Regions from separate parts of the Homo sapiens genome. Here all the other regions are linked to region 1. Evidence: fine-mapped expression QTL. A gene starts in region 1. Each other region holds a variant in brackets. All regions are shown on one strand. Distances are from middle to middle.

The links.
Region 2: its variant is fine-mapped to the expression of BID in caudate (GTEx, PIP 0.96).
Region 3: its variant is fine-mapped to the expression of BID in whole blood (TOPMed, PIP above 0.99).

What each region holds. Positions count from the first base shown.
Region 1 is chr22:17,770,973-17,779,127 of GRCh38, reverse strand. BID (BH3 interacting domain death agonist) reads left to right here and starts at 4,659. Exons shown (of 6, transcript NM_001196.4): 1 at 4,659-4,747. It overlaps LINC00528 (long intergenic non-protein coding RNA 528), which reads right to left and starts at 1,838. Exons shown (of 1, transcript NR_103718.1): 1 at 1-1,838. RefSeq lists enhancers at 1,324-1,803, 7,191-7,330 and silencers at 4,531-4,630, 4,651-4,700, 4,721-4,790, 4,821-5,150.
Region 2 is chr22:17,295,881-17,304,057 of GRCh38, reverse strand. No RefSeq gene overlaps it. Among named protein-coding and RNA genes, the nearest start is that of CECR3, 33 kb to the right of the region's middle. RefSeq lists enhancers at 1-102, 173-292. The variant C/T (reference allele first, on the strand shown) is at 4,563.
Region 3 is chr22:17,730,460-17,738,608 of GRCh38, reverse strand. BCL2L13 (BCL2 like 13) reads right to left here. Exons shown (of 7, transcript NM_015367.4): 7 at 7,754-8,149. It overlaps BID (BH3 interacting domain death agonist), which reads left to right. Exons shown (of 6, transcript NM_001196.4): 5 at 380-592; 6 at 3,018-4,471. The coding sequence ends at 3,029. Among named protein-coding and RNA genes, the nearest start is that of MIR3198-1, 30 kb to the left of the region's middle. The variant T/A (reference allele first, on the strand shown) is at 3,180.

The sequences.
Region 1 (8,155 bases):
TCATTTTATACTATTAGACTGGCAAAGGTTTGGAGGCTAGATCCTGCCCAGTGTTGGTGGGGATGGAGCAGGGCGGCCTGCAAGCCCTGCTGTGGGATTAAAGTGTACCACTGGGGAGACCTCACCACAGGCCCACCTTAGACGGGAGCTCTGTCCCTACAGTTTGGTCCCCAGATATCTCTCTAAAGAAACCCTCATTCGGGCTCAGAGCACCGTGTTTGAGGATATGAATGAGAGTGGCTCGTCATGGCGGCAAGTTGGAGGTCACTGGGGTTCCATGGTTTGGGAGGCAGTTGGGCAAAATGCAGGGCTGCCCACAGTGGGGACCCCATGGCACTGGAGGCACACGCGCAGCAATGTGGAGGGACCCAGCAGATGGAGCCGGGTGGAGAAAACGCGCCAGCTCACATCTCAGTTAAAACACACGTGCACGAGCAACAGCACACTTGCTCGTGAGACTGCCTAGGAGCCAGTCCACGGCGCGGAGAGAGCCGGCAGCGCTGTCTCATTCACTGTCTCAGTCCAGCTTCCAGCCCTGCGCCATCCTTATGCGAGAGTCCCTCAGGTGTGTGGCAACCTCAGCTCTGCACACCCAGCCTTGGACACCCACAGCGCAAACAGGGACCCTCCCAGAGCTGCCCCCAAGCCCTCCCCTGGCCTGTGTGCGGGCGTCTGAGCGGGTGGAGGCCAGCCATGGGCTCTGCTTCCCTGTGAGCCAGGGTCTGGGCTGAGTCTAACCTAGAGGCCCAGGGTGAGCGCCGGGGAGGTCACATCATTCCCGGAGTTTGGAGGGATCCAACACAGCTCCCCTGAAGTTGGCTGTGACTTGGGCCTGTCAGAAGCAGCCTGAGAGGAGGGTCGCAAGTGACCCAGACCTGGGAAGGAGGGAAAGGTTTGAATTTTGCAAAAAAAAAAGATAACTTTGCCCTTTTCGCTTGATCTTGGGGGGACAAGATGGGGGTGACGCCTCCCGAGACCGGGAGAGGAAGGCCACCTGGCGAAGCTGCAGTCCCAGCATTATCTGTATGTTAAATTGATGTTTTAAATCAGAGTTGATATCCAAGTAATTAAAGAATAACTAACAAGCACAGGGACTAGTGAGGGGCTGGGCCAGATTCTCTGCAACCCATATGGCTTCACCTACTTTCCAAACCCCCGGTTCTGTGAGGACCGAAAATGACCATCCCAGACTATTCCAGAAACAGCCTGGGGATTCTGAAAGTTTCCCAGAGCATAGGCAGTGAAAGAGAGAGAAGCTCAGCCCTTCTGGAGGGGACGGGTGGCTCAGAACAGAAGGTGGAAAGGGAGAGAAGCTCAGCCCTTCCAGAGGGGATGGGTGGCTCAGAGCAGAAGGTGGGGATGCAGTTCTGGGGGCGCCATGGCCGAGCACCACAGACCCGGGACTTGCACAACAGAAGCGGGTTTCCTCACAATTCTGAGCCGGAAGGCGGAGATAAATGCGTGGGCACGGCTGGGTTCCCCGGACGCCTCTCTCCCTGGCGCAGAGACGATGTGTTGTTCTCCCCGGGTCCGTTCCTGTGTGGGTGTCCGCGTCCCCATCAGGACACCAGTCAGATAGGAGGAGGGCCATCCAGTGACCTCACTTCACCTTAATCACCTCTGGAAAGTCCCTGTGTCCAAGCACAGTCACGTTCTGAGGTCCTGGGGGTCAGGGCTTCAACTTACGAATTTTGAGAGCATTCAAGTCAGCCCACAACAGTGGACTCTGAAATAATCTTTTAGGAACTGGACTCCTCAAGGACGCTTTAGAAAATGCCGGCCTCGTTCTGTTGCAAAGGGGTAACTGAGGAAGAGGGGCTGAATTTTCACAGGAAGACGAGCCCGGTGGCAGGAAGTGACAGTGAGAAACTGCAGCATAAAGCGGAAGCAAAGGCCGACTGTGACTATGTGGTCGCCAGCTCGCCTTCCCCGTCAAACCTTGCTGGATTTTGTGTTTCATTTTCATTGCCAAAAACATCATTCAGGTCGGGTGCAGTGGTTCATGCCTGTAACCCCAGCACTTTGGGAGGCCGAGGTGGGAGGATTACTTGAGCCCAGGAGTTCAAGACCAGCCTGGGGAACATAGCAAGACCCTGTCCCAAAAAAAAAAAAAAAAAAAAAAAAAAAAGGCCAGGTGTGGTGGCACACGCCTGTAATCCCAGCACTCTGGGAGTCTGAGGCGGGCAGATCACCTGAGGTCAGGAGTTCGAGAACAGCCTGGCCAATATGGTGAAACCCCGTCTCTACTAAAAATACAAAAATTAGCCAGCCAATCATGGTGGTGGGTGCCTGTAATCCCAGCTACTTGGGAGGCTGAGGCTGGAGAATCACTTGAACCCGGGAGGCAGAAGTTGCAGTGAGCGGAAATCACACCATTGCACTCCAGCATGGGTGACACAGCCAGACTCCGTCTAAAAAAAATTTTTAAAAAATTAGCCAGGCGTGGCGGTGCATGCCTGCAGTCCCAGATACTTGGGAGGCTGAGGCAGGAGGATCACTCGAGCCTGGGAGGTCAAGGCTGCAGTGAGCTGTGATCACACCACTGCACTCCAGCATGGGTGACAGAGCTAGATCCTGTTTCAAAAAAAAAAATAAAGTCATCATTCTCTCATGTATGTGTATATTGTTTCATTTGTTAATTAAGGTATAATTTTACATACAGTAAAACTCACCATTCTTCGTGCAGAGTTCTCACAAAAGTGTACAATTGTGTGGCATCCACCACAATCCCTGTATAGAAGAATCCCATCATCCCCGGAATTTCCCTGGACCCTTCCATAGCCCCCCAGTCCGTCACCCCCTGAATTGTTTTCTGGCACCCCGCCCCCCTTTCTTTTTGAAGTGGTTGTTTTGCAGGAAACATCACCCTCTCTCATTTTACAAATACTGCAGACAGATTTTGAAGCCCAAAGCATCATAGAGGCAGCAGATCAGGACAGGGAGGATTGAGGCGGGGAGGCTCTACCCTGACTGTAAGAAGCACTTGAGAGACCTGCAAAAAGCCAACAGGAGAGGCAGAGACTGTGGGGGCCAATTGGTACAGGTCCTGCCCTGCATGACAGGGCCAGTGGCCCCCACAGTGCTGAGGATAAAATCCAACTGCTCATCCAGGCTGCTGGAGCCTCCTGCCTTCAGGCCACCCCACTGGCCTCTTGCCCACTGTGCCCCACTGTCCAAGCTCTCGCCTGCCCTGGGAGGGGCCCCTGCAGCTTCTTGTGCCCAGGTGCACGTCCCTCTCTTTTCCCATCTGGGCGCCTGCTGACATTGTACCATGAATTTGAACACCACCCTGCAGATGACCTGGCCTCAGTCCATGAAGTTTCCCTTTCGTCTTCTGCAGGGCACCGGCCCCTAATGCCATCTGACGGTTTCCCTGCTCACAGGATCTTCCATTTGTTAGCCCCCCAGAGTGCCCAGCCCGAGTGAAGAGCATGCAGGAAACAAGCCCCTGTCCTCGTGGAGGCTACATTCCGAGAGGGGAGGTAGGCAACACACACACAAACGACTCCGTGGTATGTCATGCTGCGATGCTGGCTGTGGAGGAAAATGAAGTGAGGCCTGGTGAAAGCCAGAGGCCATGGGGCTGCCGAGGAGGAACAGGGACAGGGTAGGATTTGCTTAGAGCAGGGCAGGTCGCGTGGGACTCTGCGGGCCACTGAAAGGAACTTGGCTTTTATTCAGAGGATGTTAAAGCGTGAGTGACATCCTCTGACCTTTTATAAAAGAGGCAAGAGTCTAGGGAGCCCGGGTAGAAGTGAGGGCGTCTGGAGGAGCCACAGTGGGCTCAGGGAGTGAGCCCACGCGAGGGCGCAGAGCAACTGGACGCTCCAACAGGGCTGGTGGAAGTGCCGAACGGTGTGCATCACCTTGGAAAGCAGGCAGTTTTTAATACCATGAAGCTCGTCCAGCCCTATGATTCGCATTTCCACTCCTAGGTATCACACTCAAGAGAAGTGAAGACGCCCACAAAGGGCTCTGCAGCAGCACTGCCGGTGAGAGCTGCATCCGGGGATGCATGGACTGGCCTGTCATTCCAGCACCTTGGGAGGCCGAGGTGGGAAGCATCGCTGGAGCCCAGGAGTTCGAGACCAGCCTGAGACCTCCAGAGGTGGAGACCCCCCCCCCACCACCTCCACTAAAAACTGAAAAAGAAATTAGTTGGGTGTGGTGTGCGCCTGTAGTCCCAGCATTATCTATATGTTAAACTGATGTTTTAAATCAGAGTTGATATCCAAATAATTAAAGAATAAACAACAAGCACAGGGACTGGTGAGGGGCTGGGCCAGATTCTCTGCAACCCACATGGCTTCACCCACTTTCCAAACCCCTGGTTCCGTGAGGACCTAGAATGACCACCCCAGACTGTTCCAGAAACAGCCTGGGGATTCTGAATGTTTCCCAGAGAATCATTAGGAATTATCCCAGCGGCGCTGGAGTAAGTGGCCAACTTAAAGTTGGACGACACTGTCTGAAACAGTCGCGTAAGGGGTAAGGGTGGAAAGCCTGGTTCTCACTGCGCTGCCGGCTCCCCGCCCCGCTCCACAGCCCCGCGCCGGCGCGGGCTCCCCGGGTCCCCGCAAGCCGCCGGGGGCGGGCCGGGGCGGGCCGGGGCGGGCCCGGGCGTGGGGGGCCGAAGGAGGAAGCGCGCGGGGCGCCATAAGGAGGAAGCGGGTAGTCGACCGTGTCCGCGCGCCTGGGAGACGCTGCCTCGGCCCGGACGCGCCCGCGCCCCCGCGGCTGGAGGGTGGTGAGTGCACCCGCGCCCCTCCCGGGGTACGCGCCGAGCCCCAGCCCGTGACCCCTGCCTGCCGCCTGCCCCGGCGTGGAGCTCAGGGCCCGCCGCCCGCCCTGGGCCCGACCGCGGTGGGAGCCAGAGGAGGGGAGGCGGGGGGTCAGAGCCCCAGGCCTCAGCAGCGACCTGAGGGCCGGGTCTCTCCCGCCTCCCCTCCGCCCGGGCGCCCTCCTCGGCGCGGCCGGCAGGTCGGTGCTGAGGGTCGGGTCCGCCTCGGAGGCGGGGAAGGCTTTGTTGTGTCCTCTCCACGTGGCCTGGGGATTCAGGGGAGGGGTGCGGGGCGCGGGGAGGGGGAGGGGCCGAGGCCAGCCCCGGAGAGGAGAAAACCCGCGGGCCTGGCCGGGTGCAGGCCACCCTTGCCGGCGGATCGGAATCCCCGCCCACACCGTGGTCTTTCCAGCACCGCAGACACCTGCCGGCTCCTCCCGAGCGGAGCTCAGGGCTGACAAAGCGCGGTCAGAGCGGCCGCTTACTGGGGCTCGCCCGCTCCTTAGAGCACTGGCAATGATGTGCGGATCCTCGCTGCTGCTGCTGGGAAACTGTTGAGTGGCTGAATGACCCCAGGGGACCCTGGGAGAGCTCTGAAGCCCTCAGCCACCAAGTGGCTGGGCTGGCAAGGGTTCATTCATTCATTCAACAAATACGAATGTGCAGCGGTGCTGGGGTCATGATGGCTCGGTGGGCAGCGAGGGGCCGGGCCGGCTGGAGGAGCACAGTGCGGATTCTGTAAGTGGGCTGGGGGCTGGGCCTTCTGCGGCTGGACCGGCCTTCACCTGCAGGCAGGGTTGGGGCAGGTGAGGAGCAGATGGACCCACCCAGAGCTCTTCCACCTTCTCAGGCTTGCACCCCCTTCCTGGAGCCTTATCCACACCCTCAGTCCTCGCTCTCACTGTGGGGGAGCTGCAGAGGATGCGGTTTTTCCACATTCCATCTCCACCCACAGGAGGCTTTGAGATGGGGGGAGCTCTCCTGGGCCTGAATGTGTGCCGTCCTGGGGCCCTGCAGTCCCCTGGGAGTGATGACCGAGACCAGATTCCCTGAGCTGGGGTCTTAAGGGTGTGGGGAGCGCAGAGGGATCCTCTGGCATCAGGAGTTGAGGTAGACAGAGCTCCAGGGAGGCACTGCCGGGAGGACGACCCTGGCCAAGCCTCTGCCTGCGGCCCAGGGTGTGCGTCCCTGCCCCTTCTGCCCCTCTTGCCCAGGGAGGGAAGAGGAAATGCGGGGTCAGCAGTTCGTGGCTGGGGTTTAAAGGCAGGGATCTCCCAGGACGGGCACAGGGAGCATGAGGAAGCAGCTCGTGTCTCTGTTCATGAGATGTGAGAGTGGTGACTGAGACGAGGGGTGCAGAGACCTGCCGTGGCTGGGGCGAGGTGCTGTTAGTGCTTCTGAGGAGGTTGGGCAGGATAGACGGTGGCTGTCAGGTGGTCTCAAGGTTGTGCAGGAGCTTGCCAGAGAGGGAAGCGGGGCATGGCCCCAGGGTGGTATGGGGGATTCTAGGGGGAGGGTGCCTGGGTGGGAAGGGGTGTCGCATGCCCAGCTCAGAGGCCTTGCTTAGGGGTGCTCACAGGCTCGGCTGACGTGAGGATGCTGATCGAAGGAGCTGAGGGTCCCACTCATTTGCAAGGGGGAACTGTCTGCCCAGGAGCCCCAGCAGTGCCCAGGCCCCTGGACTGACAAGGATGGATGAGGGTGATGGAGGCGGATGGACATTTGACACTGGAGCCTGCCTTCCAGGCAGAAGGGCCGTGAGTCATCCTCTCTCCGGTGCCAAGTGGAGGGGCTGAGCAGGTCCTCGACGTGACCGAGGACTGTGCCCGTTTTTTCAGGGGACCCGGAGCGCTGGCTCTGGCTGTCAGCCCATGAGAGACCTCCCTGCAGAGCTGTGGCCTCTGGAAATGCTTCCTGTCGTTGACATCTGGTCACCATTCTCCAGCTGGGGCTGTGGAGGGCAGCACAGGCCTGGAGTGTCCCCGAGAGCAGCTGGGCGTCTGCCCCTGCCCACCCCACAGGGCCTCCCACTCACAGGGCCTAATTAGCAGCTCCATGGCTGCCATACCTGGCGGACCGCCCTCAGCGGCCACATATATCCTTGCCCCAAGCCAATGACAGGTCTGAAGAAGACACTGATGGAGCTGAAGCACAGGACAGAGACAAGCACCTGTGTGCCGGACGCTCACGGAGCACTTGATGTGTGCTGACTGGCTCACATCACGGTGGTCAGACGAGGGTAGCATCCCCATTCTCCAGATGGTGTAACTGAGGCAAGGAGAGGCTAAGTAACTTGTCCAAGGTCACACCCGAGGGAGTTGGACTTCAGGGTCTCAGCTCTGAGCATCAGGCACACTGCCCAGATTCCCCCTCCACATGTCACACCTGTTAGGCCACTGGGGGTAAGGAGCCTTTCTGTGGCCTCGCTCCCCTGTGAGCCCCTGGGAGGGAGGCAGCCCAGATTCCAAGGCAGCGAGTGACGTGTGTGGGAAAGGGGAAGCTTCCGGGGCAGGGGTTCAGAAACCTCGCAGTGGGGTTTTCCCCAAGAGCCACTGCTGGCAGGTTCCTACAGCCCCATCCAGCCCCAACACAGCCTGCCTCTTTTCCTTCCTCTTCCTCCTTTTCTCTTTCTGCCTGCGTTGGTCCAAAATGGGGAAGTTTCACATAAATGGCAAACAGGCCACAAAGCAGCTATTTCTGGAGGTGCTGCTGCCTTGCAGATTGAATTCTTGGTTGGCATTTTAGGTGTTTGTTTTCAGGATCCTTTTCTGTAGAAGAAGCCAACAACTAAGAAAAGGAGGAAGTGGCTTTGGGAGGCTGAGACGGGAGGATTGCTCGAGCCCGGGAGGTCAAGGCTATAGTGAGCTGTGATTGCACCGCCGCACTCCTTGAATCCTATCAGCTTGGCCAGGGTGGGGGTGGGAAGTGGGGTCTTAAAGGGGAAAGACCAGCCGGGCGCGGTGGCTCACGCCTGTAATCCCAGCACTTTGGGAGGCCGAGTTGGGCGGATCATGAGGTCAGGAGATCAAGACCGTCCTGACTAAGACGTTGAAACCCCGTCTCTACTAAAAATACAGAAAATTAGCTGTGCGTGGTGGGGGGCGCCCATAGTCCCAGCTACCTGGGAGGCTGAGGCAGGAGAATGGTGTGAACCCGGGAGGTGGAGCTTGCAGTGAGCCGAGATCGCGCCACTGCACTCCAGCCTGGGGGACAGAGCGAGACTCCGTCTCAAAAAAAAAGTGGGGGAAAGATCACCATCTGGATCATAGACCAGACCTGAAAGGGGGCTGGTCACTTTTAGGTACGTAGAGTAACTGGAAAGACACACTGTCCTAGTGGAAGCCGTGGGTGGCCTCTGTGGCTGCTGTGGCCCCA
Region 2 (8,177 bases), 480 kb after region 1:
TCCCTTACGCCGATGCTTCCTGTGGTTCCATTCTCACCACAATGTACCCACCTGCAGCCTGCGGGCCCACTTGTCCTCACTACCCCATGCTCTGCTCCAGCCTGTTTGGTCGGGAACCACATTTCCCCATCTCCCATGCTTTCTGGCTGTTGGGGGCACTGCAGAAGACTGGAGTGTGGGAGCCAGGAGGAAGGCAGGGTGTTCCTCCTCCTGCAAGGGCCCCATGTCGTGCAAAGGCAGTGTCTCCTGCACAGTTCCATCTCTAGTTGGACATCATCTCCCTTCCTGGTCCCAGCTTCCCTCATCACCTCCACCCACTAACACGGAACCCTGTCTTCAGGAGCCCGGCAACGTCATCTCCTACTGTGTCTTCCTAACCCTAGGAGTAGCAACGGCTTCCTGCGCTGTAAGTCCCTCAGCACCTGTGGAACCAGCTTGCTGCACTGGAGTGCCGATTTTCCTGGCTGAACACAAACTGATACGATGGAGAATACTGCTGCGGGAGGCGTGTCTTTGTCATATTATTCTTTGCTTAAAAAGTCAAGCGGGCCGCGTGTGGTGGCTCACGCCTCTAATCCCAGCACTTTGGGAGGCCAAGGCGGGTGGATCACCTGAGGCCGGGAGTTCAAGACCAGCCTGACCAACATGGAGAAACCCCATCTCTACTAAAAATACAAAATTAGCCGGGCGTTGTGGCGCATGCCTGTAATCACAGCTACTCAGGAGGCTGAGGCAGGAGAATCACTTGAACCTGGGAGGCAGAGGTTGTGGTGAGCCAAGATCATGCCATTGCACTCCAGCCTGGGCAATAAGAGGGAAATTCCATCTCAAAAAAAAAAAAAAGTCAAGTGAATTGTGCATTGTATCCCATAAATTATCTGTATTTGTCCCAACATGAAAACAATGTTCCCTGCAAATCTTGGCATGAATTTGAAGCTCTCTAAAGGTGCCCCCATGTGTTCTGTGGCACCATTGCCCACAGCTTAGTGTACTGACAGAATCGTCCCCTGTAGCCATTGACTATCGGTACTAATCAACTGGGGCTGCTATCATAAAATACCACAGACCTGGGGGCTTAAACAACAGAAATGTATTTGCTCAAAGTTCTGGAGGCTGGAAGTCCAAGATCAAGATGTTGGCAAGGTTGGTTTCTCCTGAGGCCTCTCTCCTTGGTGTGCAGAAGGCCGCCTCTGGCTGTGTCCTCACATGGCCTTTCCTCTTTGTGTGCACTCCTGCTGTCTCTTCTCTTCTTCTTACAAAGACACCCATTGTATTAGATTAGGGCTCCATCCTTAGAACCTCATTTAATCCTTTTTTTTTTTTTTTTTTTTTTTGGAGATGGAGTTTTGCTCTTGTCCCTAGGCTGGAGTACAATGACATGATCTTGGCTCACTGCAGCTCCCACCTCCCAGATTCAAGTGATTCTTCTGCCTCAGCCTCCCGAGTAGTTATGATTACAGGCACCCACCACCATGCCTGGCTAATTTTTGTATTTTTAGTAGAGACGGGGTTTCCCCATGTTGGCCACGCTGGTCTCAAATTCCTGACCTCAGGTGATCCACCCACCTCAGCCTCCCAAAGTGCTGGGATTATAGGCGTGAGCCACCTCGCCCGGCTGACTTCGTTTCATTTTAATCATCTCCTTAAAAGTCCCTTCTCCAAATGCAGTCACATTGAGGGCCAGGGCTTCAACATTTGAATTTGTGGGCTGGAGAAGCCCACTTCAGTCTATAAGACCACCCTGGTCATCTTTGGGCAGAACTGCAGATAACTCATTTTCATGATAAAGATGATCATTCTGGCCACGTGCGGTGGCTCATGCCTGTAATCCCAGCACTTTGGGAGCCCAAGGTGGGTGGATCACAAGGTCAGCAGTTCAAGATCAGCCGGCCCAGATGGTGAAACTCTGTCTCTACTAAAACTATAAAAATTAGCCAGATGCGGTGGTGCATGCCTGTAATCCCAGCTACTCGGGAGGGTGGGGCAGGAGAATTGCTTGAACCCAGGTGGCAAAGTTTGCGGTGAACTGAGATTGAGCCACTGCACTCCAGCCTGGGTGACAGAATGAGACTCCATCTCAAAAAAAAAAAAAAAAAGATCATTCCTAGGTTTCCAGGCCTTTTACAATTCTGATGAGCAAAGCCATTGTCTACCCAGAAACCACTACTAAATATGAAATTGTTACCAAGAGCCCAAGAGTATCCAGTCTAGCATTCTCCTGTTTGCCCATTAGCAAAATACTTGTTTAGCAAATTGCTACACAAAGAGCAGAACCCTGGGAAGAGAAAGGTTTATTGGGGTGTAGAGGTGGCAGAACAGGAATGAGCCAGGAGGAGGGGCGTTTAGAGGAGGAGTTGTTTGGGCAACAATCTGGTAGGCTAGGCTGGGCCAGGAACGGGACTATTGGATATTCTTTTCTCATTCTTCTCCAGTTTTTTTCTCTACCCTTCTTCCCTGCTCTGGCTAGCTCCTGCTGTAAGGAGCAGTACCCCAAACAGGGACGTCCAGGCACGGTGGTTCATGCTTGTAACCACAGTGCTTGGGAAGGATGGGGCAGAATGATCGCTTGAGGCCAGGAGTTTCAGGCCAGCCTGGGCAACATAGAGAGCCCTCAACTCTACAAAAAATATATAACTTAGCTGGGGGAGGTGGTGAATGCCAGTGGTCCCAGCTACTCAGGAGGCTGAGGTGGGAAGATGGCTTGAGCCAAGGAGTTTGAGGCTGCAGTGAGCTGTCATTGCACCACTGCACTCCAGCCTGGGCAACAGAGTGAGACCCTGTCTCTCAAAAAAAAAAAACAACCAATCAACCAACCAAACAAGGAAAGATCCTCTCAGGCACTATCCTATAGGGGGCAGGTCACATGTCTGCTTGCTCTGGGCACAAGGTCATTGCCACACCTCTGTCTGGGTCCATCTCTTTCAAGCCAATCAATCGTTCCCAGCAAAGAGAGTGCTTACCTTCAGGCATAGCCCTGGCCTCTGACGCTACAACAAACAAGAGCTTTCAGTCTTGTTGAGAAACACAGTTCCCTCCTTAACTATTTTGGTAGGGTTCTTTTAATTCAGAACTTTAGAAAGCAAACAGAAGAATACCTTGAATCCCTAAATGAAATTAACCAAAGTCACTGTTTTGGGAAAATAAACCGAATTGAAAATAATATAAAGTCATAAACACAATGTAGAGATAATGTTATCTTCTCACTGGAAGATTAATTACCTTAACCAGGGATGACTAGGGCTAGGTCTCTGGCCCAGTACAGTCGTTTTGATACAGCCACAGCCCATACTGGTCTGGTTGCTTCTCGCTATTGGTGTTTATTGCAGAGACATAATTGTTTATGGATTTTCTGCCTCCATTAATTATGTTTCTATTTCCACCATTCCTGTTCCAAATTTCTATTGTAGAAATGCTAGAGAACTCTGTAATGCAAATGTGTTTGGTATGAAGCTATAGAGTACAAGGGGTTTTACAGGGCTGCCCAGATTTAGGGAGGGTCTTCTCATATCACATAGAAACTTCCCATATCACATAGGAACTCCACACCCCAGCAATATTTTATTATCAAACAGTCCCTCTAGTAAAACAGCAAGGGTCAAATGCTACACTTTGTTTCAGACAGGGTCTTGCTCTGTCACCTAGGCTGCAGTGCAGTGGTGCGATCTTGGCTCAGTGCAACCTCAATTTCCTGGGCTCATGCGACCCTCCCACCTCAGCCTCTCAAGTAGCTGGGACTACAGGTGTGCATCATCATGCCCAGCTATTTTTATTTTTATTTTTTGTAAAGATGAGGTCTCACTTTGTTGCCCTGGCTGGTCTCAAACTCCTGGCCTCAAGCCATCCTCCCGCCAAGGCCTCCCAACATGCTGGGATTACAGGTGCGAGCCACCATACCCAGCCTGATTTCATTTTCGACATTCATTTTGTCTTTTATACCTTTAAATCAAGTTGGGTAAAGTAAAATATGTGGATTTCATGTTTTAACCAACAAAAGGTGTGGGGTGACAAGAGCAAGAAGCATTTGTTAAGCATGAACACCATGCTAGGTGTCTTACTTATGTTGCCTTTATCTAATAATGCCTATAATGCTAAGAGACATTACTGCTGTCTGACAGCTGAAGACACTGAGGTCCAGGAGGGTGACAGGCAAGCGGGGAGCAGAGCCGGGACAGGAGGACAGCATGATCCAAGTCAGAGCCCGTGTTCTTTTATTATCCCAAATCTGGAACAACAGATCACTTCTGTTTCCTTGATGGACTTAAAAAAGTTTTTGTGGTGATGGTCCGGATCCAAGATGGCCGAATAGGAACAGCTCCAGTCTGCAGCTCCCAGCGTGATTGACACAGAAGACAGGTGATTTCTGCATTTCCAACTGAGGTACCTATTCATCTCATTGGGACTGGTTGGACAGTGGGTGCAGCCCATGGAGGGTGAGCCAAAGCAGGGTGGGGCATCGCCTCACCCAGGAAGTGCAAGGGATCAGGGGATTTCCCTTTCCTAGCCAAGGGAAGCCATGACAGACTGTACCTGGAAAATCGGGACACTCCCACCCTAACACTGCC[C/T]TTTTCCAAGGGTCTTAGCAAACAGCACACCAGGAGATTATATCCTACGCCTGGCTCAGTGGGTCCCACACCCACAGAGCTTTGCTCACTGCTAGCGCAGCAGTCTGAGATCAAACTGGGAGGCGGCAGCCTGGCTGGGGGAAGGGCGTCTGCCCTTGCAGAGGCTTGAGTAGGTAAACAAAGCAGAGGGGAAGCTCGAACTGGATGGAGCGCACCATAGCTCAACAAGGCCTGCCTGCCTCTGTAGACTCCACCTCTGGGGGCAGGGCACAGCTGAACAAAAGCCAGCAGCAGAAACCTCTGTAGACTTAAACATCCCTGTCTGACAGCTCTGAAGAGAGTAGTGGTTCTCCCAGCACAGTGTTTGAGCTCTGAGAACAGACAGACTTCCTCTTCAAGTGGGTCCCTGACCCTCATGTAGCCTAACTGGGAGACACCTCCCAGTAGGGGCCAACTGACACCTCATACAGCCGGGTGCCCCTCTGGGACAAAGCTTACAGAGGAAGGATCAGGCAGCAATATTTGCTGTTCTGCAATATTTGCTGTTCTGCAGCCTCCACTGGTAATACCCTGGCAAACATGGTCTGGAGTGCACCTCCAGAAAACTCCAACAGACCTGCAGCTGAGGGACCTGACTGTTAGAAGGAAAACTCACAAACAGAAAGGAATAGCATCAAAATCAACAAAAAGGACATCCGCACCGAAACCTCATCTCTAGGTCACCATCATCAAAGACCAAAGGTAGATAAAACCACAAAGATGGGGAGAAACCAGAGCAGAAAAGCTGAAAATTCTAAAAACCAGAGCGCCTCTTCTCCTCCAAAGGATCGCAGCTCCTAGTCAGCAATGGAACAAAGCTGGATGGAGAATGACTTTGATGAGTTGAGAGAAGTAGGCTTCAGAAGGTCGGTAATAAAATTCTCCAGGCTAAAGGAGGATGTTTGAACCCATCACAAGGAAGCTAAAAACCTTGGAAAAAGATTAGATGAATGGCTAACTAGAATAAACAGTATAGAGAAGACCTTAAATGACATGATGGAGCTGAAAACCATGGCACGAGTACTACGTGACACATGCACAAGCTTCAGTAGCTGATTCGATCAACTGGAAGAAAGGGGATCAGTGACTGAAGATCAAATTAATGAAATAAAGTGAGAAGAGAAGTTTAGAGAAAAAAGAATAAAAAGGAAAGAACAAAGCCTCCAAGAAATATGGGACTACGTGAAAAGACCAAATCTATGTTTGATTGGTGTACCTGAAAGTGACGGGGAGAATGGAACCAAGTTGGAAAAAGCTCTTCAGGATATTATCCAGGAGAACTTCGCCAACCTAGCAAGGCAGGCCAACATTCAAATTCAGGAAATACAGAGAATGCCACAAAGATACTCCGCGAGAAGAGCAACCACAAGACCCATAATTGTCAGATTCACCAAGGTTGAAATGAAGGAAAAAGTGTTAAAGGCAGCCAGAGAGAAAGGCCAGGTTACCCACAAAGGGAAGCCCATCAGACTAACGGCGGATGTCTCAGCAGAAACTCTACAAGCCAGAAGAGGGTGGGGGCCAATATTCAACATTCTTAATGAAAAGAATTTTCAACCCAGAATTTCATATCCAGCCAAACTAAGCTTCATAAGTGAAGGAGAAATAAAATCCTTTACAGACAAGCAAATGCTGATATTTGTCACCACCAGACCTGCCTTACAACAGCTCCTGAAGGAAGCACTAAACATGGAAAGGAATGACTGGTACCAGCCACTGCAAAAAGATGCCAAATTGTAAAGATCATCGATGCTAGGAAGAAACTGTATCAACTAACAGGAAAAATAACCAGCTGACATCATAATGACAGGATCAAATTCACACACAACAATATTAACCTTAAATGTAAATGAGCTAAATGCCCCAATTAAAAGACACAGACTGGCAAATTGGACAAAGAGTCAAAACTCATCAGTATGCTGTATTCAGGAGACCCATCTCACACGCAGAGACACACATAGGCCCAAAATAAAGGGATGGAGGAAGATCTACCAAGCAAATGGAAAACATAAAAAAGCAGGGGTTGCAATCCCAGTCTTTGATAAAACAGAATTTAAACCAACAAAGATCAAAAGAGACAAAGAAGGCCATTACACAATGGTAAAGGGATCAATTCAATGAGAAGAGCTAACTATCCTAAATATATATGCACCTAATACAGGAGCACCCAGATTCATAAAGCAAGTCCTTAGAGACCTACAAAGAGACTTAGAATCCCACACAATAATAATGGGAGACTTTAACACCCCACTGTCAATATTAGACAGATCAACAAGACAGAAGGTTAACAAGGATATCCAGGACTTGAATTCAGCTCTGCACCAAGCAGACCTAACAGACATCTACAGAACTCTCCACATCAACAGAATATACATTCTTCTCAGCACCACATTGCACTTATTCTAAAACTGACCACATAATTGGAAGTAAAGCACTCCTCAGCAAATGTAAAAGGACAGAAATCACAACAACCTGTCTCTCAGACTACAGTGCAATCAAATTAGAACTCAGGATTAAGAAAATCACTCAAAACTGCACAACTACATGGAAACTGAACAACCTGCTCCTGAATGACTACTGGGTAAATAACGAAATGAAGGCAGAAATAAAGATGTTCTTTGAGGCTGGGGGTGGTGGCTCATGCCTGTAATCCCAGCACTTTGGGAGGCTAAGACGGGCAGATCACCTGAGGTCAGGAGTTCAAGACCAGCCTGGCCAACATGGTGAGACCCCCGTCTCTACTAAAAATACAAAAAAAATTAGCCGGGCATAGTGGTGGGTGCCTGTAATCCCAGCTACTCGGGAGGCTGAGGCAGGAGAATCACTTGAACTTGGGAGGCGGAGGTTTCAGTGAGCCAAGATCACAGCATTGCACTCCAGCCTGGGCAACAGAGCAAGAATCTGTCTCAAAAAAAAAAAAAAGAAAAGATGTTCTTTGAAACCAATGAGAACAAAGACACAACGTACCAGAATCTCTGGGACACATTTAAAGCAGTGTGTAGAGGGAAATTTATAGCACTAAGTGCCCACAAGAGAAAGCAGGAAAGATCTAAAATCGACACCTTAACATCACAATTAAAAGAACTAGAGAAGCAAGAGCAAACAAATTCAAAAGCTAGCAGAAGGCAAGAAATAACTAAGATCAGAGCAGAACTGAAGGAGATAGAGACACAAAAAACCCTTCAAAAAAATCAATGAATCCAGGAGCTGGTTTTTTCAAAAGATCAACAAAATTGATATACCACTAGCAAGACTAATAAAGAAGAAAAGAGAGAAGAATCAAATAGACACAATAAAAAACGATAAAGGGGATATCACCACCAATCCCGCAGGAATACAAATTACCATCAGAGAATACTATAAACACCTCTATGCAAATAAACTAGAAAATTTAGAAGAAATGGATAAATTCCTGGACACATATACCCACCCAAGACTAAACCAGGAAGAGGTTGAATCCCTGAATAGACGAATAACAGGCTCTGAAATTGAGGCAATAATTCATAGCCTACCAACCAAAATAAAGTCCAGGACCAGATGGATTCACAGCCAAATTCTACCAGAGGTACAAAGAAG
Region 3 (8,149 bases), 41 kb after region 1:
CCCAGGAACCCCCTTCCTCCTGTCCATTCAGCTAGGTCTGCACCAATAAAATGGGCCTAAGGCGTCGCAGGTGGTCACTAGTTCTGGACTCGAAGTGCCTTGGGCGCAGGGATGACCCAGGCTTCTTGTATCCCATCACCGTCTAACAGTGGGCACATGGGCTCACCACACATGCGTTTGCTTACCGAGCCCCCTGCAGGGAGTGATTGCAGTCTTCCCTTTCCATTGCCTCTCAGAACTCAACTGTTTCTCATTCTTTCCGCCCAGCAGCCCTGGATACTTAATAAGTACTTTGAAGTGCTTCTTCATACTGGGGACTGTCTTTCCTTTGAGAGGGAAGAGTATTAGTAAACCAGGTTCTGTGTGCCCCTCTGTGCAGGACCGGAACAGGGACCTGGCCACTGCCCTGGAGCAGCTGCTGCAGGCCTACCCTAGAGACATGGAGAAGGAGAAGACCATGCTGGTGCTGGCCCTGCTGCTGGCCAAGAAGGTGGCCAGTCACACGCCGTCCTTGCTCCGTGATGTCTTTCACACAACAGTGAATTTTATTAACCAGAACCTACGCACCTACGTGAGGAGCTTAGCCAGAAATGTAAGAACCCTTGAGGTCAGCTCCTTCCCTGCCTGCCGCCCATGCCCTTTTCTCTGGAAGGTTGAGAAGCCCAGCGGGGCCCCTGCCTCTGATGCCAGCACAAGGGTTACAGGCTGTCCTGCTCGGGTTTGGTTTTGCTGTTGTGAGCTAGAAAGCTGTGTGTAAAGGTGACGAAGAGCACCCAGAGTCCTTTGGAGCTTTAGCAGCTTACTATTGGAGACATGCTCCATTCAGAGGGGTGGCAAAGGCTCACGTCACACTCCTGGTGGGGTCCTCAAGGCACAAGCAGGTACAGAGTGGAAGGAAGGGGCTGGAGGGCTCACAATGAGCTTTTCAGACCTCTCACCTTGCCATAAAAAATAAGTGTAATGTGGCCAGTGCGGTGGCTCATGCCTGTGATCCCACTGCTCTGGGAGGCCAAGGCAGGTGGATCACCTGAGGTCAGGAGTTCCAGACCACCCTGGCCAACAGGGTGAAAGCCCGTCTCTACTAAAATACAAAAATTAGCCGGGCATGGTGGCGCACACCTGTAGTCCCAGCTACTCAGGAGGCTGAGGCAGGAGAACTGCTTGAACCCTGGAGGCAGAGGTTGCAGTGAACTGAGATCGCACCACTGCACTTTAGCCTGGGCGACAGAGCAAGACTCCATCTCAAAAAAAAGGTGTAATGTGAACCAAAACGAGTAGTCAAAAAAGGGGGGGAACTGTCTGAAATCTTTTCCAGAGCACATCTGTCCCATAACCAGGTATTACAAGTCACAGTCTAAAGGCTGGGCATGGTGGCTCAAGCCTGTAATCCCAGCGATTTGGGAAGCAGAAGCAGTGGGATTGCTTGAGGCCAGGAGTTTGAGACAAAACTGAGCAACATGGCGAGACCCTGTCTCTAAAAAATTTATAAAAATAATTAGCTGAGGGCCAGGCGCGGTGGCTCACGCCTGTAATCCCAGCACTTTGGGAGGCCAAGGCAGGCGGATCATGAAGTCAGGAGTTCAAGACCAGCCTGGCCAAGATGGTGAAACCCCGTTTCTACTAAAAATACAAAAAAAATTAGCTGGGTGTGGTGGCGGGCGCCTGTAATCCCAGCTACTCAGGAGGCTAAGGCAGGAGAATCGCTTGAACCCTGGTGGCAGAGGTTGCAGTGAGCCGCAATCACGCCACTGCACTCCAGCCTGGATGATGGGGTAAGACTGTCTCAAAAAAAAAAAAAATTAGCTGAGCATGGTGGCGTACGCCTGTAGTTCACGCCGTCATGGAGGTTGAGGCAGCTCCTCAGGAGGCTGGGGCAGAAGGATCTCTTTGCTTGAGCCCAGGAGTTCAAGGCTGCAGTGAGCTGATTGTGCCACTGCACTCCAGCCTGAACAAAAACAAGACCTGTCTCTAAAAACAAACATACAGTGTTCACAATGCTGCCCAAGAAGGGCCAGTTTTTGCAGCTGCCCCCATGTAGCAAAATCTGGTGCTTCTGTTTCATAGACCCAAATGGAAATTAAGTGGATGTGTCTTATTTGTAAATTTAAAAATATTAGCGAATGTTTGGGAATTTTTTTTTTTTTTTTTTTTGAGACAGAATTTTGCTCTTGTTGCCCAGGCTGGAGTGCAATGGCACGATCTCAGCTCACCACAACCTCTGCCTCCCAGGTTCAAGCGATTCTCCTGCCTCAGCCCCCCAAGAAGCTGGGATTACAGGCACACACCACCATGACCGGCTAATTTTGTATTTTTAGTAGAGATGAGGTTTCTCCCATGTTAGGCTGGTCTCGAACTCCCAACCTCAGGTGATCCGCCCACCTCGGCCTCCCAAAGTGCTGGGATTACAGGCGTGAGCCACTGCGCCCGGCCTAATGTTTGGGATTTTATGACATGTCAGAAGCATTACTTCAGGCTTTGGTTTTTAAGTAAAATAGCATCTAATCCTCTACTGAGAACTCATAAGAAAACATTCCTTATATGCTGTGGTCTTCAGTTATACAAGCATTTTAAAAACAGGAGAATGAATATAAATCTTAAATCAGGCATTAAACCCAGCTGAATTGTTGGAAGGAGGTAAGCCTGAGACCATTCCTGGACAGCTTTTACCAACACCCATGTAAAGGGGGAAAGGGTGGGCAAGACGTGTGCAGCAGTCTGTATGGACAGCTTACCAGAGACTGAGGGCTGAGGCAGAATCGTGATTCCTCTGACCCAGCAGGGGCCTCCTGACACCGTCAGTGCCTTGGAGATGTGAATACCCACCTCACCGCCTGAACGGCCTGTTTTTGCAGTTGCCCCCATGTAGCAAAAAGTAGGATGCACGGATAGGACTTCAGGGGTCTGGAGAACATGTTTTTGCATAAACCCCAGCTTTGCTCTACTGTGGCACAGAGCTCTGGAGCCTGGTTTGTGAATGAGCCTAGCTGATTCTGGCTTTTTCTCCTTTCTTGCTCTAGGGGATGGACTGAACGGACAGTTCCAGAAGTGTGACTGGCTAAAGCTCGATGTGGTCACAGCTGTATAGCTGCTTCCAGTGTAGACGGAGCCCTGGCATGTCAACAGCGTTCCTAGAGAAGACAGGCTGGAAGATAGCTGTGACTTCTATTTTAAAGACAATG[T/A]TAAACTTATAACCCACTTTAAAATATCTACATTAATATACTTGAATGAAAATGTCCATTTACACGTATTTGAATGGCCTTCATATCATCCACACATGAATCTGCACATCTGTAAATCTACACACGGTGCCTTTATTTCCACTGTGCAGGTTCCCACTTAAAAATTAAATTGGAAAGCAGGTTTCAAGGAAGTAGAAACAAAATACAATTTTTTTGGTAAAAAAAAATTACTGTTTATTAAAGTACAACCATAGAGGATGGTCTTACAGCAGGCAGTATCCTGTTTGAGGAAAGCAAGAATCAGAGAAGGAACATACCCCTTACAAATGAAAAATTCCACTCAAAATAGGGACTATCTATCTTAATACTAAGGAACCAACAATCTTCCTGTTTAAAAAACCACATGGCACAGAGATTCTGAACTAAAGTGCTGCACTCAAATGATGGGAAGTCCGGCCCCAGTACACAGGGGCTTGACTTTTTCAACTTCGTTTCCTTTGTTGGAGTCAAAAAGAACCACTTGTGGTTCTAAAAGGTGTGAAGGTGATTTAAGGGCCCAGGTCAGCCACTGTTTGTTTACAAAATCAGGTAACTAACTGCATACACTTTTTCTCTTTCCATGACATCAAGACTTTGCTAAAGACATGAAGCCACGGGTGCCAGAAGCTACTGCGATGCCCCGGGAGTTAGCCCCCTGGTAATAGCTGTAAACTTCCAATTTCTAGCCATACGCTCAGCTCATCCATGCCTCAGAAGTGCATCTGGAGAGAACAGGTTTCTAAGCATAAAAGATGAAAGAGCAGTTGGACTTTTTAAAAATTCAGCAAAGTGGTTCCCTCTCTTAGGGACAGTCAAAACCAAGTCACTTAGGTAGTACCAAAATAAATAAGGAAAAGCTTAGCTTTAGAAACAGTGCAACACTGGTCTGCTGTTCCAGTGGTAAGCTATGTCCCAGGAATCAGTTTAAAAGCACGACAGTGGATGCTGGGTCCATATCACACACATTGCTGTGAACAGGAAACTCCTGTGACCACAACATGAGGCCACTGGAGACGCATATGAGTAAGGGCACTGACGGACTCATGATTTCTTCTTACCAGATGCTTTCCTGTTCTTTAAGAGTTTAAAATCATCAGAAAGGAAAAACAAACTCTATATTGTTCAGCATGCAATACATACCACGCTAGGGCTGGCTCAATTGAAAGTGGGCAAAAGCTTACAAATACTAAAAAGAAGTGCTGCCGCGCAGTGTGGAGGCCACTGTTTGGAAATAAATCTTCCTAACACTACGACTTTTCATGTTTTGGAGTGGACTTTTAAAAAAGTTTTCCAACCACAATGGAAACAGGTTGAACCACACTGCGCCTACACATCCATCCATACGTCAGCCATTATAATCAGATTCTCACTGGGGGAGGCATTTTCTTCCCAAAGGAGCTGTATGCAGTCATCACCCGGAACTAATGGGAAAGTGTTCTTAAGCAGCAAGTGACTCTGGACCACCTCTCTCACACACTGACTCTTCCACAGCATCTTCACCTGCTTCTGTTTCACTTGAATTCATACAGTAGGCCACCATTTTATAACAGGTCTTAGTGTAAATTCTTCCAGACCAAGTCTGAGATAGTCTTGGTTGTAAAGCAAGACCGTCACCCCTTCTCCCAAAGCCAACATTATAAAAAGATTCCATTGTCTCAAACACAAATGTTCCAGTCTTGAGCACTTCCCAGCCATGGTGACTCGGGCATATCCTGGCAGTTGGTGGATTTTGCCCTGTAACACAATCCTTGTGGATATGATTCAAAGGTGACTTTAATTCAGAGAATGTGTTTTCCTTTCTGTTTTAAAAATATTTGAATTAAGTGATGGAAATTCTTTTGTTAAACATCAAAAGCTTTCTCCTTGAAAAGATGCTTGGTGTATCTGAAAGTCACGTGGGACATTTGGTGCATTCAGAAGGTCAAATCATTCCTGACCTCTCCTCTTAGGACCCAGCATTAACTGCTGCGATACTCAAGGCTTCCTTAAAGGATCACAGCACTGGCGCCTAGTTTTACTGTCCAGCAACTTTATTAGTTGTGCTAGCTGAGAATTGGAATATAGAGTCCTTTGAATGTTACGATCTTGTTTTCAAAACCTGGAGTCAAACCAATTAAGTATGGACTTAACAAAGACAATTGATGATGTGAAATGATACCACCTGTCAAGGGCATAGTTACCATGTGGATAGAAAGATGAGTCCACTGATTATCTTCAAATCCCATGTATTCTCTCTAGCACGTTGCTTCTGACAGAAAGAATAACTCACAGATTTGAAGTTTGTTCCTTTCCCCTGATGAAGAGTAGATTGGCCAAAAGGTAGATGACAGGAAGGAAGAGGAGCCAGAATGACCCACAGTGATCAGTTCAGCAGTGCAGAGCGGCAGTGCAGAGGCTCATGGAACTCACACGGAAAAAGGAAACACATGCTGCTTAAAATGCACGATAACTTAATTATCCAAATTACCATTCAATTCCGGTATTTTTGAGATGAAAGCATTTGAGCCAACACTAAATTGACCTTAATTAAGGAATGAGGTAGGAAGAGGCACTTTTAATCTGGAGGAAGAAATAAATGGAAGACTGTAATAGGAAAAATACAGGTCTAGGAAAAAAATAATTTTTTTCCTTTGATGCTGGCCAAGGACCCCTCTACATAATACAGTTCTCCTGCTGGAAAGCATCAGGGCAAACAGAGTTATTCCAAACTCTGCAACAGGGAAGACTGTACTTTGACCTTCTTTTCCTGGGGAAAGGGAACAACTAGTAATCTTTAAATGTCAAAACTTTTCTTCTAAATAGTACATTCATTAACCAGTTTCTTCTGGTGGTGCAAAGAACACTCACCACAGTGAGCAATACCACTATTCAATTTCCCCTTTGGAGAGGTGACAGCGGGGTAGAATCACCTGGAGTCAGCTGCTAGTCTTTAACTGATGACAAGGCCTTGCAAATACCCCTGAGAACAATTTCACTCTGAGCTCACAGGGAAGCAGCAGTCTGGTGTGGGCTCCTGTGGTGTAACCATCAAATGTGGAAGACCTGATGGTGTTAGTGTGTGGGGATGCCGGGCTGAAATTCAACAGCCTTGCAAAAAGAAAGGGAAGATGGGATGTGTTAATATTGTAGTGGCATGCACTTTCCAGCTCTCCATGGAGCTCTCTTTATATATGAGGTAATTGAATGTCACTATTCTGTACCATACAGCAGGTATTATCTAGCCAAGGTTATAATTACCATGAAGTGCTGTGGAATGTAGTAGGAGGCTTTTCACTGGGAAGATCCTCCAGGAGCTGACGTACTTGTGGCCATACCTGGTCAACCCTCCTAAGTCCCCAACCTCTTTGTCTGTCCAGAGGCCAAGCAATGCTTCCAGGTATTCCCCTACTTCACTCCACAGCCCCACCCTTATGATGGCATACACAGGGGAGAAGGGACGAACTCGAACAAACAGAAAAAGACCAAGAAATGCATCGTGGTGCTGTCTTCACCCCCCTCATTTAGCACTTTGTGATAACTGCTGGGACAGATTGCCTAACCTTGTCTACAAGCAAAAATATTTAATCAAGAAAGCTAATGAAAGCTCATCGGCAATGACTGTGAATTCTGTAACCACAAAGCATCTCACTCAATGTCTACAGGGAAAACAGCTACATAATTGGAAGCTGAGACCAGTCCTGGACCTAACCCTCACTCTTGTTTTTTTGTAGTAGAACATGCTTAATGTTTAAGTGAGCCTATATGGTGCCTTTGTACAAATTAGAAAAATACTTCGCTTCTCCCAGAGCCCACAGCATGGTGAGCAGAGCACAGGCTGCACGTCGGAATTTGTCCCCAGTCAGTCCTTATGCAGTAAACAACTGGCGCAACTGTTTGCAGGGGACCTGCCAATACTGCTTTGCAGTGCCAGGAAAATGATAAAAACCGGCAAAATCATTGCCTTGCCTCGCCTATGCTTGAGGACGTTAGAAAAACTAACTCTGGGCCGGGCACGGTGGCTCACGCCTGTAATCCCAGCACTTTGGGAGGCCAAGGCGGGTGGATCACGAGGTCAGGAGATCGAGCCCATCCTGGCTAACATAGTAGAGACCCTGTCTCTACTAAAAATACAAAAAAAGCAGCCGGGTATGGTGGCGGGCGCCTGTAGTCCCAGCTACTTGGGAGGCTGAGGCAGGAGAATGGCGTGAGCCCGGGAAGCGGAGCTTGCAGTGAGCCGAGATTGTGCCACTGCACTCCAGCCTGGGCGACAGAGCAAGGCTCTGTCTCAAAAAAAAAAAAAAAAAAAAAAAAGGAAAAAGAAAAACTAACAAACTCTGATTAGGTTCTTCATTCTGTAATATGGGAATAAAAGGAATACAAACAGCTATTAGAACTGTGAAGGTGAAATAAGGTATGTGAGAGCACTAGAACCGTCTCTGGCATGTTATAAATGCTCAACTAGTATTTGCTAAAATATAATTATCGACATGAATTTTTTTTAGGAAAAATTATACACCCTAAACTCAAATGAATGTCATAATTGAGAGATTATCACTAAGGGCAGGTTTTGGTGCACCAGAGAAGAGGAAACATTATTCTGGTATCCAGTATGTCGCTGAGATGTTAAACGAGATAATGCTTGTGTGGGAATTTGGGCAGAAGCTCTAGGTCGTGTCTGTTAGCAATCAGATAGCCTACAAGGCCGTCTTGATGGGTATGATCACCACCTCAAATTCTTGGAAAGATAAGTTTGTGTGGAAAGATGTAAGAAATTAAGAGAAAGGGAAAATTCTTAGCTACAAAACGTTTTATTTCTATAAAACATCTCTTAAAATAATTCAAACACTGAAATGTCCACATCTCATACCTTTCAGGAGAAAGGCAAGGAGACTACTTGCCTTACTGTCATATTATTGAGGGAATCAGCGCAAAGCCTGAGGAAATGAACAGTA